2 separate regions of the Homo sapiens genome follow, and region 2 is linked to region 1. The links come from fine-mapping of genetic effects on gene expression. A gene starts in region 1. The other region holds a variant in brackets. All regions are shown on one strand. Distances are between the middles of the regions.

Evidence for each region.
Region 2: its variant is fine-mapped to the expression of ACTR10 in cerebellar hemisphere (GTEx, PIP 0.93).

Annotation. Positions count from the first base shown.
Region 1 is chr14:58,196,034-58,204,632 of GRCh38, forward strand. ACTR10 (actin related protein 10) reads left to right here and starts at 4,116. Exons shown (of 13, transcript NM_018477.3): 1 at 4,116-4,261; 2 at 6,822-6,894. The coding sequence starts at 4,185. RefSeq lists enhancers at 3,559-3,688, 4,309-4,498 and a silencer at 3,759-4,148.
Region 2 is chr14:58,336,464-58,345,062 of GRCh38, forward strand. It overlaps ARID4A (AT-rich interaction domain 4A), which reads left to right. Exons shown (of 24, transcript NM_002892.4): 12 at 8,232-8,304. Among named protein-coding and RNA genes, the nearest start is that of ARID4A, 42 kb to the left of the region's middle. The variant G/A (reference allele first, on the strand shown) is at 3,421.

The DNA of each region.
Region 1 (8,599 bases):
TCAATAGACATGAAGACAAAACAGTAGAAACTATACAAAAAGAAACACAGAGGAAAAAATATAAGTGAGAAAAAGAAAAAAGAACAAAGAGTCAGTGAGCTACGAGAAAGCTTTAAACCACCTAATAACATATGTACTTGGACTACCCAAAGGAGAAGAGTCAGTATAGAAAAATTACTTGAAGAAACAAAGGTCAAAATATTCCAAATTTGATGAAAACTATAAAACCACAGGTCCAAGTTCACTTAATCCCAAACAAAAGAAACATGAAGAATATAATGTCAAGGCACCTGAAAAGACATTCCCACCAGTGCCACAACAGTTACAAATGCCATGGCAACATCAGGAAGTTACCCTATGTAGTCTAAAAGGGGGAGAAACCCTCAGTTCCAGGAATTGCTCAACCCTTTCCCAGAAAATCCATGAATAATCCACCCCTTGTTTAGCATATAATCAAGAAGTAATGATAAGTATAAGCAGTTAAGCAGCTCACGCTGCTGCTCTGCCTATGAGTAGCCATTCTTTTATTCCTTTACTTTCTTAATAAACTTGTTTTCATTTTACTCTATGGACTTGCCCCGAACTATTTCTTGTGCGAGGTCTAAGAACACTTTTGGGGTCTGGATTGAGACCCCTTTCTAGTAACAATAACACTTAACTCATAAAGTTGCTGTGAGGAATAAATGGGATCATATATAGCAAGGAGAGCTAGCAAATAGAACTCAACAAATATTATCTCTAGCTGTATCTATGGGAGTGGAAGAGATTGGCAAAGGAGAGGGTGTACAATAAGAAAAGAGGTTCAAGAGCAGAACCATGGAGAACAACAACATTTAGGTTGTGTACTGGGTTGAATAGTGTCCTCCCCAAAATTCGTGTGAACAGAAATCTTAGAATGTGACTATATTTGGAATTAGATCCTTTGCAAATGTAATCAAGTTAAGATGAAGTCATACTGGGTTAAGATGGACCCTGAGCCAGTAACTGATATCCTCAGAAGAAGAGGGAGGCCGGGCACAGAGGCTCATGCCTGTAATCCCAGCACTTTGGGAGGCCGAGGCGGGCGGGTCACTTGAAGTCAGGAGTCGAGACCAGCCTGGCCAACATGGCAAAATCCCATCTCTACTAAAAATACAAAAAATTAGCCAGGCATGGTGGCAGGTGCCTGTAATCCCAGCTACTTGGGAGGCTGAGGCAGGAGAATTGCTTGAACCTAGGTGGCAGAGGTTGCAGTGAGCTGAGATCGCGCCACTGCACTCCAGCCTGGGCGACAAGAGTGAAACTCCGTCTCAAAAAAAATAAAAATAAAAATAAACAAGAAGAGGGAAATTTGTTCAGCCGAATACAGAAAAAATAAAAAAGAAAACAATTAAGAAAAAAGGAGGGAAATCTGGACACAGAGACACACACAGAAGGAAAGTGATGTGAAGACACAGGGAGGAGTACATAATGTGAAAAATGCAGACACAGCGAAGAAGGCCAAGTGATGACAGAGGCAGAGATTGGAGTTATGTATCTACAAGCAAAGGCACATCAAAGATTGCCAGCAACCACCAGAAGCTAGGAAAAGGCAAGAAAGAAGGCCAGGCACGGTGGCTCATGCCTGTTATCTCAGCACTTTGGGAGGCTTAGGAAGGCGGATCACCGGAGCTCAGTAGTTTAAGACCAGCCTGGGCAACACGGTGAAACCCATCTCTACAAAAGATGTTAAAATTAGCCACGCAAGGTGGCACATGCCTGCAGTCCCAGCTACTTGGGAAGGTGAGGCAGGAGAATTGCTTGAGCCCAGTCTGGGGTTCAGTGAGCCAAGGTTGCACCACTGCACTCCAGCCTGGATGACAGAACGAGACTCTGTTAAAAAAAAAAAAAAAAAAAAAAAAAGCTGGGCGCGGTGTAATCCCAGCACTTCGAGAGGCCAAGGCAGGCAGATCACCTGAGGTTAGGAGTTCGAGACCAGCCTGGCCAACATGGTGAAACCCTATCTTTACTAAAAATCCAAAACAAACAAAAAAAAATAGTTGGGCGTGGTGGCAGGTGCCTGTAATCCCGGCTGCTCCAGAGGCTGAGGCAGAAGAATCACTTGAACCTGGTGGGGCGGAGGCTGCAGTGAGCTGAGATCGAACCTGGGTGACAGAGCGAGACTCCATCTCAAAAAAAGAAAAAAAAAAAAAGACAAGAAAGGATCCTCCTCAAGAGCCTTCAAAGAGGGCATGACCTTGCTCTTGCTGACACCTTGATTTCTGACTTCTCACCTCCAGAAGTGTGAAAGAATAAATTTTTTGTTTCCTTGAACCACCGTTTGTGGTACTTTGTTACGGCAGTCCCTAGCTAACAAATACAGCTGGTGAGCTGTCATGGAAAACATAGAATAGGTAATAACAAACTTCATCATTTCAATAGTTTCAGAAACATAATTTCAAATTGATCCTTACAAATACCTTGTGAAGCAGCAGAACAGTTTACAGATAAGGAAGTGGACGATCAGAGGTATTAGGGACTTGACAGAAAGTGGCAGAAACAGAATCTGAACTCAAGTAAGGGGTCCTATTCAAATAATCTGACTCTATTAAGCAAAAAATTTAATCTCTTCCCACGTTTCTTAAAGTTTTCTTCCCCGTCACAACTCCAACTTCATTCTCCTGTCTCCAGGAATTTGCTTTCAAGGAGGATCATTGATCAGTAATTTGGACTTAAACATGAATTTTACTAATATCACATTCCAAATTTCTGCATTGTTACAGCCTTAGTTTTTGTTATGGAAATAGCTTATCCCCAACTACCCCGCTAACTCTAGTTACCAACCATTAGAGTAGGGCCTTTTTTTTTTTTTTTTTTTTTTTTGAGAGACAGGCTCTCACTCTTGTTGTTGCCCAGGCTGGAGTGCAGCGGCACAATCCCGACTCACTGCCGCTTTAGACTTCTTGGGCTCAAGGGATCCTCCCGCTTCGGCCTCCCAAAGTGCTGGGATTACAGGTGTGATCCTGCGCTCGGACAGTTGGGACATCTTAATACAGTATAACCTCATCTTAACTTGATTACATCTGCCAAGACTCTATTTCCAAATAGGGTCACATTCTGAGGTTCCCAGTGGACAAGAATTTTGGGGGGGGGGGCATCATTCAACCCAGTACACCAGCTAAATGTTGCTAGTCCTCACCGATTTACCCTTGAACCTCTTTTCTTATTGCACAGCCTCTCCTTTGACAGTCTTTTCCACTCCTATGCATAGATACAGTTAGAGCTAATATTTGCAGGAAAAAAATATTTTCACAGAAAGCTGTGAAGTGACAAAGATGTAAACAGTAATGTAAATGTTAAAAGTAGTGGCAAAAACAGCAATTACTTTTGCACCAACCTAATAGGGGCCTTTGCTTCAATGTTTCTTCTATTAAACCATCCCGACCGCTCCTCTATGGACAGATTCAAGATTCACAGACGCTACTCTAGCTGCTTAATTCTGGAGTAAAATAAAAACTTTCAGAAAGACTACTAACTAAAGTATTGTCTGTACGTATTATTCTCTAAAGCATCATTAGCATAGGCTTTGCAATTAGGAAGTCTGTGGGTTTGTTCCTGGCTCTGCCGTGGGACATTGGGAAAGTTAATCTCTCTGAGCGTCGGTCCCCACAGATAAGAAAACACATATTCTTGTTATTTCTTGAGAAGATTAAATATTAGGCAAAACGCCTAGCACAGAATAGGGTCTCAGCATCTTCTGCCCCCCAAGAGCATGAATCAAAGGTTCGGAATTGCGTCGTCTCTCGGCTGCCCCTTGGCAGCCAGGTCCTCAGTGACCTCTTCACAGTGAGCTGAGACCGAACCTCTTCACAGCCGCGCGTGGGTGCGGCTTTGGGGCGTGGTGGGAGGGAAGGATAGGGAGGCCGGCTCCGCCCCCTCAGGGCGACCGGCGCGCCTGATCGCCGCGGCCTCCGCGCCCCCGCACTCGGATTCGCGCCCGCCAGCGCCTCTTTTCCCCTAGTCCTGGCGACGGCAGCACCTGCAAGGGTGGGTCCAACGCGGAATGAGGCACAGCCTGGGACAGCCCGGGCCCGGCGCGCCGCGGCCGCGCGAGGCCCCCGCCGTCGCCGACGCCCGAGCGCCGGAGCCCCGGCCCCGCCCCGCGAGCGCCGAGACTTGTTGGCCGCGGAGACTGCGACCCTCTTCTCTCAGTCTGCCTTACTACCATGCCGCTCTACGAGGGCCTGGGGAGCGGCGGGGAGAAGACGGCGGTCGTGATCGACCTGGGAGAGGCCTTTACCAAGTGAGTGGCCGTGACGCCAGCTGTGTTCGACCCGAGGGGAGGGCGGGTGGCAGAGCCCCAGGCACTGCCTGGGTCCTCATCGCCGACTCGCTGGGCAGCTCCGGGCCTCCCCTTTTCTTCAACCAGCGCCCTTGCAAATAACAGCTCTTATTATTTCCTCCCTGGGCGATGCGAATCCGAGGATCGGGGTCTGACTCCCAGAGAGGCCCAGAAAGCTTCTGTTGAATTGCCCTCGTCGCCGCCCCTTGTCATCACCCCAAACCCAACAAACCCTTTGGGATCATCTGTGTAGGGGATGACAACCGTGACCTAGACCCCGCTTACCCTGGGCTCCTCAGTTGAGGAAGGCAGCCAACCGAATGTAAATGCTCGATGACGAATTTCATCATAAAATATTGAACGGAGTTTATTTTGGTGCTGAAAATGGAAAGATGTTTAAGACAGGGCTATCGCTGCTCAAGAATTAGGGAGACTGGGCACATTAAGAGGTGAAACCCTATAGATAAGATTCTGGAAATCCTTTGTTGGCTCCCCTAAACTCGAAGGTTAGATTTGACATGTTTTAAACAAACCAACTTGTAAACAATAGAGAGGAGGTTCTCAACCTTTCGGATGGCATAGATCTCTTTAATGGCTGGATGAAAACCACAAATGCACAAATCTTAAGGTACTTATACACAGTTTCAGGGAATTGGCAGACAATCAATGTGGTCCTGGGACCCTAGATTAAGAGTCCTTGTGATGGGCTCAACAGAGAGGGAAGTAACAGGCAATTACATCATATATGTATTTATGAAAATGAAACATTTGAAAAATCTTTTTATATCTCTAGGCACTTCCTGACGTGTAGTAGGTATTTAATAACTATTTATTGACTAAGTGGTTAAAAGAGCCTATTTAAAAATTGGACCCCAGGAACTCCAGAATTGGATTAAACATAGTCCTTGGTTAATGACATTCTCTTATTGTTCTATGCGAGGCCCTTCCTTATTTATATTTTCTTATTAAAATTATTTTGAAAGCGTAATAAACAGTTCGAGGCTTCTAGTCAAAGATAATTATTTTGGCTGTACTTGGAAGAAATAAGCAAAAAGCTATATTTGAAAAAGACAGCAGGAGGATGATAAGATAAATGTATGAAGTAAAAAAAAGGAATTGAAGTCTAATGGCTTGCATTCTGAGATGTTTGAGGAGCACTGATGCAAGTAAACATGGAGACGGGAATAGGAGGAGATGGAGAGAATTATTTGGGAATACGAGGAGAGCAGTATCAAAAACTAGACAGGACAAGAAGACAGGATGTTAAGACTAAACTAGTATGATGATCATTTTTAGCAACGTTTTTAGCAAATTTTTGTTTTACTAACATGAAACAAAAATGGAAATACCTAAATACTCAAGAAAAGAGCATCGTTTTTAAAATAATGAAATATGTGGTTTTAAAAATAATACTGTAATTCCAGCAGTTTGGAAAGCTGAGGCGGGCTGACCACTTGAGCCCAGTAGTTCAAGACCAGCCTGGGCAACATGGGGAAACCCAGCTCTACACAAAATACAAAATTTAGCCGGCGGTAGTGTCGTGCCCGAAATCCTAGCACTTTGGGAGGCCAAGGGGGGAGGATCGCTTGAGCCTGGGAAGCGGAGGCTGCAGTGATCTGAGTTTGTGCCACTGCACTCCAGCCTGGGCGACAGAGCGAGACCCTGCCTCAAAAAAAAAAAAAAAAAAAGTGATAGCAATGAAGATTATGTTAATATGGGCAGAAGCTTACTGTATGAGTTAATTATGTATGAAGTGTGATTAAAACTATGTCAAATATATATGCATAATCATAAGAAGTAGACTGAAAGTGAATACACCAATATGGAAGCTAACAATATTAGAATGATGGAATTATGAGTGATACAGATGAATTATATGAATGAAGTCACATAATGTAGTACAGATTCAGAGTTGTAGATATGTCTTGCCTAAATTCTGCTAAAATTAACAACTAGGAAAAAAGTTGGCCAGGCGCGGTGGCCCACGCCTGTAATACCAGCACTTTGGGAGGCCGACGCGGGCGGGTCACGAGGTCAGGAGATCGAGACTATCCTGGCTAACACGGTGAAACCTCGTCTCTACTAAAAAAAAAAAAAAAAATTAGCCCTGCGTGGTGGCCGGCACCTGTAGTCCCAGCTACTCAGGAGCCTGAGGCAGGAGAATGGCGTGAACCCGGGAGGCGGAGCTTGCAGTGAGCCGAGATCGCGCCACTGCACTCCAGCCTGGGTGACAGAGCCAGACTCCATCTCAAAAAAAAAAAAGTAAATGCTGCCCTAAAATAATACATTTGTTTTTTTCAGCATCACGAATTTCATAGAATTTTTTTCTGTTAATACACAAGCATTAATAAATAGTATTATTAGTTTTGTGGAGTGATTTTTTTTGATCCCTTAAAATACATCAGGTATTTTCAAATGTTATTGTGGCCATTGTTTTGAAACAAATACAGAGAAAATTAGTTTCTGTGACAAATATTTAAAAGAATACTATAAGTTGTTTCAATTTTCCATTTATTTGCAGGTGTGGATTTGCTGGAGAAACTGGTCCAAGATGTATAATTCCTAGTGTGATAAAAAGAGCTGGGATGCCTAAGGTATTTAAAAAAAAATATTAGCAAAATAAATGCCATACTATAAAATGTTTTAAAATATGACTTCAAGTAAGATTGATTAAAACAGTACTAAAGGCCAGCCGTGGTGGCTCACGCCTGTAATCCCAACACTTTGGGTGGCTGAGGCGGGTGGATCACCTGAGATCAGGAGTTTGAGACCAGCCTGGACAACATGGTGAAACCCTGTCTCAACTAAAAATACAAAAATTAGCCGGGAGTGGTGGCAGGCACCTCTAATCCCAGCTCCTCAGGGGGCCGAGGCAGGAGAATTGCTTGAACCCGGGAGGCGGAGGTTGCAGTGAGCCAAAATCAAGCCATCGCACTCCAGCCTGGGGGGCAAGAGCAAGACTTCGTCTCAAAAAAAAAAAAAAAAAAAGAAACAAGAAACAGTACTAAATATATACTTTGTGGCTATATTTCCAAGGAAAAGTTTTTCTTTTTAAATCAACTTTATCAAGGTCTAATTTTGCACACCATAAGTATATCATGTTGTACAAGTACCACCACAATCCAGTTTTAGAATGTTTTCATCACCCCAGTAAAATCCCTAATACCCGTTTACAATTAATCCTCATTCCTATCCTCAGCCCATTAGGGTGTACCTTCTGTTTCTATAGATTTGTCTTTTCTGTACATTTTATGTAAATGGAATCATATATCAAGAGAAAAATTTTAACTTCAGTAAAATACTTTTATAAGTCTTATAACCACTGAATTATTTTATTATTTATAATATATCAGATATTTATTCCCTTATTTACAGTTTCAAAACCCAGAGAATTTTGAAAACAAACTTTCAAAAAGTTTCTTGCCACAGCTAATTTGGCAGATTAGAAATTACAACCAGTAGAAAGAATGATTTTGCATGTTATAAAATTCACTTGTTAAAAAATGAGATGTAGCTGTTACCACAGTAACATTATATATGCATTCCAGAAAATACCTTTGTTCTGCAAAATGGTACATTTTTAAAAAACAAAACAAAACAGGCTTATGGGAAAAATAAGCTTGAGGTAGTCCATATAAAACCTGTGTAACTTTGTAATCAGAGGACTAGCAAAAACAATAATTGATGCCTCCACAAAATTTAAATAGGATTGGCAGGCAGCTGAGTGTGGCTGGAGGCTGTCTTAGGGAATATTAAAAATAAAATTGTGGGCTGGGCAGATTACACGCCTGTAATCGCAGCACTTTGGGAGGCCGAGGCGGGCAGATCACGAGGTCAGGAGATCGAGACCATCCTGGCTAACACAGTGAAAACCCATCTCTACTAAAAAAAAAAAAAAAAATTAGCCAGGCATGGTGGCAGGCACTGGTATTCCCAGCTACTTGGGAGGCTGAGGCAGGAGAATGGCGTGAACTCGGGAGGCGAAGCTTGCAGTGAGCCGAGATTGCGCCACTGCACTCCAGCCTGGGCGACAGAGCGAGACTCCATCTCAAAAAAATAAAATAAAATAAAATCGTGGAGGTGGTGCGCACCTGTAGTCCCCAGCTACTTGGGAGGCCGAAGTGGGAGGATCACTTGAGCCCAGGAGGTTGAGGCTGCAGTGAGCCAAGATTGCACCACTGCATTCCACCATGGGCGACAGAGTGAGACCCTGTCTCAAAAATAAACAAATAAAAATAAAAGTCATGGATTGAAAATGTTAGCCAGTGGGTTCTGAGTCAGTGCAGATGGTAGCAAGCT
Region 2 (8,599 bases), 140 kb after region 1:
CTTTTCACTTTAAGTTAAACGTGAAGTTTAACTGAAGTTTAAAATTTTAAGCTTTCTTTTTAAATTTGTCTTTATTTGCTGTTTCCCTAAGGTGTTGTGACAAAATATATCTGTTGTACGAGAACATACATCAAGATGTACCTTTCATTATACCACTATTAAAACGTTTACCTTTTGTAGGAGATACAAACAAGTAAAGATAACCACGCCAAATAATGTTCTTAGTTTATTCATGGAGACTTGGTGGTTTTTAAAGTAAGACTGTTTGTTTAGTCCTTACAACAGTCTATGAAAATATGTATATAAATAAATATATACATATGAAATCGCCTCAGAGTGCATTGCCTGAGAAAAGAGAGATTATGAAGGGAGGTTAGATACCTTATCCCATAGTTTCTCCCAAAGTGGACTTTCTTTTTCTTTTTTCTTTTCTTTTTTTTTTGTTTTTGAGACAGTCTCACTCCGTCACTCAGACTGGAGTGCTGTGGCGCGATTTCCACTCACTGCAACCTCCGCCTCCCGAGTTCAAGTGATTTTCATGCTTCAGCCTTCCCAGTAGCTGGAATTACAGGCATGTGCCACCATGCCCAGCTAATTTTTGTGCTTTTAGTAGGGACGAGGTTTCACCATGTTGGCCAGGCTGGTCTCGAACTCCTGGCCTCAAGTGATCTGCCCACCTTTGCCTCCCAAAGTGCTGGGATTATAGGCATGAGCCACTGCGCCCAGCCCCAAAGTGAACTTTCTAGAACCTTACAACAAATCTCCTAGAACCTTCTCTTTATTTATATATATATATATATATATAATTAAAACCGAGGTTTAGAGAGGTTTCAGAATTTTTTACAAGCTTTTAAGAAAATGTTCTCTCCTCCTCTAGACTGTAAGATCTGTGAAAGCAGGGGATCTCAGGATTTTTGTTTTTTCCTTTTCCTACCAGTATATATACCTAACAGCTATCAACACAGAGCTTGCTTGGCTCATATTAAACCTTCATTAAATGAATGAATGTGGATTATGCAATTGTTGTAGTAAATTACTCTTTGAAACAAGGTGGTGGGAGATTTGTTATAAGGTTCTAGAAAGTTCACCTTGGCAGGGGGAACTAAGGGATAAGATATCTAACTTCCCTTTATAATATCTCTTTTCTCAGGCTGTGTACTCTGTAGGCAATCTCAATTTCTTACATAATTTTGTGAGTTTATAAAATAAATTATTTTTTGCTTAAGCCATCTTGGGATAGTTTTCTGTCACTTGTAGTAAAAGTTATTGAGTAACAATGCTCCTTGCTTGTATTTTGTTCCACTTACTCCAGGTATCTTCCTTGTGGTGTTTTCCCTTCGAATTCATTATCCATAAACATCTTTATAAAACATAGGCGGTTCCTGATGGTAACCCTTTATTGGCTTTCAGCACCTTCAGGACGAAGTCTGGGTTTTTTATCACAGGCCTTTAGAAGTCTGCCTGATCATGATGTGACCCATGCCCACCTCTTTATTCTCCCTTCCATTATTCTTCCATGATATGGGACTTCTTATAGCTCCCCTGCTGCCACTTAGATATTGTTCAGAAGGTGCTGTTGAGCTGTAAGATACATTACATTGAATATTGCCTTTGTGTTGCCCATTCCCTTTGTTAGTATTAAATATAATAGGAAAGATAAAACGCAAGTTTTAAAAACTCAGAAAATGAGTAAATGATAAACAACAGCTGAGATTTTAAAAATTCAACAGATGTCTGTAGGAACAAAGAGGGCTCTACTTGAATTAAAGTGGGTGAGTACAGCTTACAAATGTTCTATGCATTTACCTTAGTTTTAGTATTTCACATTTTTAAAAAATCACACTATTTAATATATTATAAATTTAAAATTTTATACAAAAAATGTAAGCAGCTATTGGATTCGCTGCTTCCTTCCCGTGAGTCCTCCAGTCCAGACATGTCCTCAGAGCTGCCACTTCTGATGTACTCCTTGCAGTGCTTAGCTCCCCACAGTGGAGCTTGGAGGGTGCTGTCTTAACATCTCTCCTTCCATGATAGGGATCTGCCCATTTCAGGGGATTCTTCCTGCTGCCTTCAAACTGAGCCTCATTTTTGGAGGTGGTAGGGATGAAGGAGAGGGGATGGAGGGGTTGTAAGAGCTGAGGAGTGTGAGGACTTGTGATGGAGTTTCAGAGTTGGGGTGAGAAGGGTAGCCCATGAAGAGGGCCAGAAGAGGGACTATAGACAGCATCATAAAGAAATTTAAATTTCTTTATATTTGGTAAAAGTATTTAGTGTTATAAATCATTATGAATGAATGTACTAAAAGAAAGAATATAATAAAAGATCTTACTTTTATTTATCATGAAGGGGAAACAAAGTTGCTTGTGTCCAAAGTAACATTATTGCACAAAAAAAAGTCCTTTGGTATTGAAAAAAATGAGTGGTATACTGGAGTACACCGCCCCACCCCCCACCCCCAATACACACAAAAGGTAGGGGTGTTATATAATTATTAAAACTTTTTTTTTTTTTTTTTTTGGAGACACAGTCTTACTCTGCCTCTCAGGCTGGAGTGCAGTGGTGATTATAGCTCACTGCAGCCTCAACTTTCCAGGCTCAAGCCATCCTCCCACCTTAGCCTCCTGAGTAGCTGGGACTAGGATTATAGGCATGCACCACCATGCCCGGCTAATTTATTATTATTTTTTTTTTATAGAGACAAAGTTTCGCTATGTTGCCCAGTCTGGTCTAAAACCCCTGGGCTCAAGTGATCCTCCTGCCTGGCCCTCCCAAAGTGCTAGGATTACAGGCAGGAGCCACTGAGCCTGACCAAAAATTTTAAGGGATTCCCATAGAGGTTCTTGAAACCTGAGAATACCCATCAACAATATGTTCTGTTACATACAATACACAGTATAGGGAAACCACAAAGATCAAGTTTAGTTATACCTTTCCTCACTTTAAAAATGTCAATTTTTGTGGCTCCGATATGTTATACGCTAGGAAACTATCCCAAGCCACCAATTAGAACTGTGTACAAGTTACATGGGTCTGAGGAGCTTTGGGTAAAGTTCATCATCTTTTACTGACATATTTTGACAATTTGGACACTATCTGTCCACCTTCCTAATGTGTATTGGAAACTAGAGTTGCTAGCTAAGAAAGTTAATAGCTCCTACAAAAATAAGATATCTTATTTTTCAAATTGTATTTGTCTCTGTATTACTCTGTTCTCACGTTGTCATAAAGAACTTTGTTAGATTGGGTATTTTATAAAGAGGTTTAATTGACTCACAGTTCCACAGGCTGTACAGGAGGCATGGCTGGGGAGGCCTCAGGAAACTTATAATCAGGACAAAAGGTGAAGGGGAAGCAAGCATATCTTCACGTGGCAACAGGAGAGAGAGAGAGAGAGAGAGAGAGAGAGAGCATGAGCAC[G/A]CAAAGGGGGAAGTGCTATACACTTTCAAGCAACCAGATCTCATGAGACCTCACTACCATGAGAACAGCAAGGGTGAAATCTGCCCCATGATCCAATCACCTCCCACCAGGTCCCTCCCCGAGTATTGGGGATTACAATTCAACATGAGATTTGGATGGGGACACAGAGCCAAACCATATCAGTTTCCCATCCCACTAAAATGGTAGGAAGTCTGTTTACTAGAATTTTTGCCATTTCCAAATGAATAATCGTTCATTTTCAGATTTATATATTTGGACAAGGGATAAGGTGAATGCCAGCAAGTCATGGGCCATAACCACCTGTGTCTTTTTTTTTCTACTTCTTCTTCTTCTTTTTTGGGACAGAGTCTCACTCGTTTTGCCCAGGCTGGAGTGCAGTGGCGCAGTCTCAGCTGGGATTACAGGTGCACGCCAGCATGCCCAGCTAATTTTGTTTTTGGTTTTTTGGTTTTTTGGTTTTTTTGAGACAGAGTCTTGCTCTGTTGCCCAGGCTGGAGTGCAGTGGCACAATCTTGGCTCACTACAACCTCCGCCTCCTGGGTTCAGGTGATTCTCCTGTCTCAGCCTCCTGAGTAGCTGGGATTACAGGCGCACAACGCCACGCCCAGCTAATTTTTTGCATTTTAGTAGAGATGGGGTTTTACCGTGTTGCCCAGGCTGGTCTTGAACTTCTGAGCTCAGGCAATCCGCCCATCTCGGCCTCCCAAAGTGCTGGGATTACAGGCATGAGCCACTGTGCCCGGCCTAATTTTGTATTTTTAGTAGAGACGGGACTTCACCATGTTGGCCAGGCTGGTCTCGAACTCCTGACCTCAGGTAATCCACCTGTCTTGGCCCCCCAAAGTGCTGGGATTACAGGCGTGAGCCACCGTGCCCGGCCCCACCTGTGTCTTAAGAACATCCTCAACTATTCTTATTTCCTCTCTTTCTCTGACTCTTGCATTTATATTATCATAAATCTTAGCTCTCATACTCAATGAATGTGAAGCAAGAAAACTCTACACAATTCATTTGCACAGATATCATTTTCATTCACATGAGTAATGTCTAAACTAAATGGCAGTCATTAGTCGTAAAATTGTGAGTAAGTCAGGCACAGTGGTTCTCTTTTCTTCCCTCTCCCCTTCTCTCTCCCTCTCCCCATCCCTCCATCAGTCTCTCTGTCTTTCTCTCTGTCTCTCTCTCTTCCTCTTCCTTTCATGGGAAGAGGTGATCTTTCCATCCCAGCTGGCAGGACTAATTCAGGCATGCGTTCTCTTCCTTGTGGACTGTTATAATGGCTTCCTTTTCCCTTCCAATCCATCAAACTCATTCTTGGCTGAGAAATTTTAAATATACAAATCTGATCTAATTCTCTTTAGCTGTCTCAAGCTTCACATCTAGCCACAGTATCAAGTTTTGTTTCTTTAGCATACTATTACAAAGTCCTTTCCTAATCCCAGCCTGCCTTTGTCAGTTTCATGCTTACGCTGTTTGCCCATTTGCTGTAGCTCCAGGGCTGTCTACTATTTACATTTTGAAGCTGCCTAATACTACCACTGCCAGTTCATCTCGAGGAAAACCATTCATTCCCTCACTTGCTCCTCCTGTATTCTTTGATGTATTTTACAACACTTACCACATCGTGTTATATTGGCTTCTTTTACCTTTCTACACCTCCTGCCAAACTCAGAGCAGCAAAAATAGAAGGTACCATGTGTTCTCATTTTAATCCACAGTGCTTTTGAACAATCTCTGATTCATGGTAACCATTAGTAGATGTTTGAGCTTAATCTGAAGACATGTGCCTAAAGTCAAAAAATTCACAATCTAGTAGTGTAGATAGATATCCAACTACTTATAATACTAAGCAGTATATACTAATACTAACTAAAATTGGAAATTTCTTGAAATTATCATCATGAATGTGACTCTTGGATCTCTGGCATTTTACTGGGTGCATAGTTATTCTTTACATGTATAAATGTAAATGACTAAATGAAGGGAAGAAGTCTCAGATGGTCTAGTGGACCTCTACCTCCCATTCTTATAACCCTCTCGCACTCCAAAACCCTTGAAAGATGCAACAGTGCCAGGCCTTCACCAGCAGAGAAATTGCTATGAAAATGCCATGGACAGAGAAAGCAAACCGTGATAGCAATTAAGAGCCCCATACAAAAGTCACGAAGGCACATTCTTCTAATTGGAGGCGTTCTCTAGCATATGCAGTTTTACTGCAAGGTGACTAGCAGCAAGGCTAGTTTTCAAAAATAATTTTGAGGAGTGGCTTATTGTAAGAGATAAGCAATTTTAATTTTCACAGAAACATCAGATAAGTTTAAAACTTTGTTTATAGCATCATGTTTTATTTATTTTTGGTGGAAAAGAAATTTCCCCTCAAGGCATTTGTTTGTAAGTAGAATTCTTTATTCATTTATATCTTGTTTAACTGTACCAAAACTACAATTTTACAGCCATAGTTTCTCGTGAAACCTAAAGCACTCTTGGTTACCCACTAACTTTTAAAAAAAATACACATAAATCAAATTTTATCTATAAAAATATATTCTTAACATTAAAAATTTATCAAATGTTGGGTACAACCTAATTTGCAATTGATGAGTTGATTTTGTTTACTTGTATTGGGGAGCAACTTTGATTTTAGTGCCTTTTTAAAGAATTGCTTTTACATATATTGAATATAGAAGTGTTACCTGAATTCTGTAGGATCATAAATACTGGAATGAGGCCTGGTATAGTGGCTCACACCTGTAATCCCAACACTTTGGGAGGCCAAGGTGGGTGGATCACCTGAGGTCAGGAGTTCGAGACCAGCCTAGCCAATGTGGCGAAACCCAGTCTCTACTAAAAATACAAAAATTAGCCAGGTGTGGTGGTGCATGCCTGTAATCCCAGCTACTCAGGAGCCTGAGGAAGGAGAATCGCTTGAACTCGGGAGGCAGAGGGTTGCACTGAGCTGAGATTGTGCCATTGCACTCCATCCTGGGTGACAGGAAGACTCTGTCTTTAAAAAAAAAAAAATACTGGAATGAAGTTTTCGTCTGAAGAGAGAATATTACGATTACAGGGCACAGGCAAAGCATAGAGCCAGTCTGGCATAAGTGGTTTTTGGTTTTGATTTTTTTTCCTCACGCTAGAAGTTCTTAAAATTAATGTGTGAAGTGGTTCTTGGGCTACTGAATTACCTATTTTCTTGAGTTAACTCATTGGCAGTTAACTTTATAAAAGCAAGATTTTTAAATTCACATGGGGAAAAAACTGCCATCTCTTAATCTGAGCATTAAGTAATGACCTTCACTAACTACTTTATAGTGATTATTAACTTTGTAAATTGCTGATTTTGGTTAGAACTTATATTTAAATTTCTTTATATTTGGTAAAAGTATTTTAGTGTTATAAATCATTATGAATGAATGTACTAAAATAATGTAATAAAAGATCTTACTCCCTTTCTCTTGATTGCCTCATGGTTTTTTATTATATATTTTGATCAACTACATGCTTATTGATCCTGGCTGTATTATCAGCTATTAGATAACACAATTTTAAAGTGCCTGTTGCCCTCTGGACACCGAAGACTCAACATTTATTGCTTGAGCATTGCCTTTGTTTTGAATATGGCTTTGTAAAGACAAAAATCCAGGCTGGGTGCTGTGGCTTATGCCTGTAATCCCAGCACTTTGGGAGGCTGGAGTGGGCGGATCACTTGAGGTCAGGAGTTTGAGACTAGCCTGGCCAAATGGTGAGACCCCCTTCTCTATTAAAAATACAAAAAATTAGCCAGGTGTAGTGGCACACTCCTGTAGTCCCAGCTACTCAGGAGGCTGAGTCAGCAGAATTGCTTGAACCCAGGAGGCAGAGGCTGCAGTGAGCCGAGGTCGTGCCATTACACTCCAGCCTAGGCAGCAAGAGCAAAACTCCATCTCAAAAAAAAAAAAGACAAAAATCTGAGCTCTTCTTTTAGAACAGAGGAGAGTAATACTCTAAGTTATGATCATTTATATGGAGGAAACATATCAGTGTTTTGTTTTTCTCTAGTAGTGCTAAACTTTAAGAATTTTAAAAGAAGCTAAATCAGTAATTATGTATCTAGTTTCCTTCCCTAAGAATTACTTCTGGAATTATTTTGTTATCTTATTTTTAGGTGTTGCAAAGTCAAGTACAGGGGCCATACTAGAAAGGCAAAAGAGAAAACCAGGTTATTGTGAGATGAGGGGGTGATGAGGTCTGGGGTAAAATAGAATGTATATGACTCACTTAAATGTATTTAAATATCTTTAAAACATTGTGCCATCTAAACAGAAATCCTTTGCCACTGTGACTTTGCAATCCCTGGTTTATATTCATCTGGCAATAACAAAAACTATGTTTATATGAAAATTATTTTTATATATAAATATATGATATAATGAACATGTGTCATTATTGTGCTCATCTGCCAGTATATTTGTGTGGGCCACATAGTATTTAAATGGGCTTTAAAAAAAATATATCAGGTGAGGTGAAAACGTAACACTCCCATTTTATTCCTGAATGTTTTCCTCTTGGCTAATCTTAGTCCTTACAGTGATACTGAAAAGTAGAGTTAGAGTGGTAAATGGAGTGAAGGGTAGACATTGTATATCTTCATAAATATGACTTAAAATCTGTCATTGTAGGATATTGAGAAAATTCAGATTTTTCAGCTTTATTAAAATTTGATGACTTTACATTGGGTTCACAAAAATAAAAGAAGACATGTATCTTTTCCAGTTCACTGTGCCATACATTTATATATTTTATCTTTACAGCCTGAGGAAGAACTTGATCCTGAAGAGAGGGACAACTTCCTCCAGCAGCTTTATAAGTTTATGGAAGACAGAGGTATTTTCATGCTCATTATTTTAAAGTAGTCATTTCTTTTTCATGTTTACATTCTAGGTATATGCATTGTTTTTGTTAGTATTGCAGATAAACAGTTTTGGATTTTATTTATTTATTTATTTTGAGGCAGGTTCTTGCTTTGATGCCCAGGCTGGAGTGCAGTGATTTGCTCCTGGCTTACTGCAGCCTTGACCTCCTGGGCTCAAGTGATCCTCCTGCCTCAGCCTCTCGAGTAGCTGGGACTACAGGCACGTGCCACCATACCCAGCTAATTTTTTATTTTTCTATTTTTTGT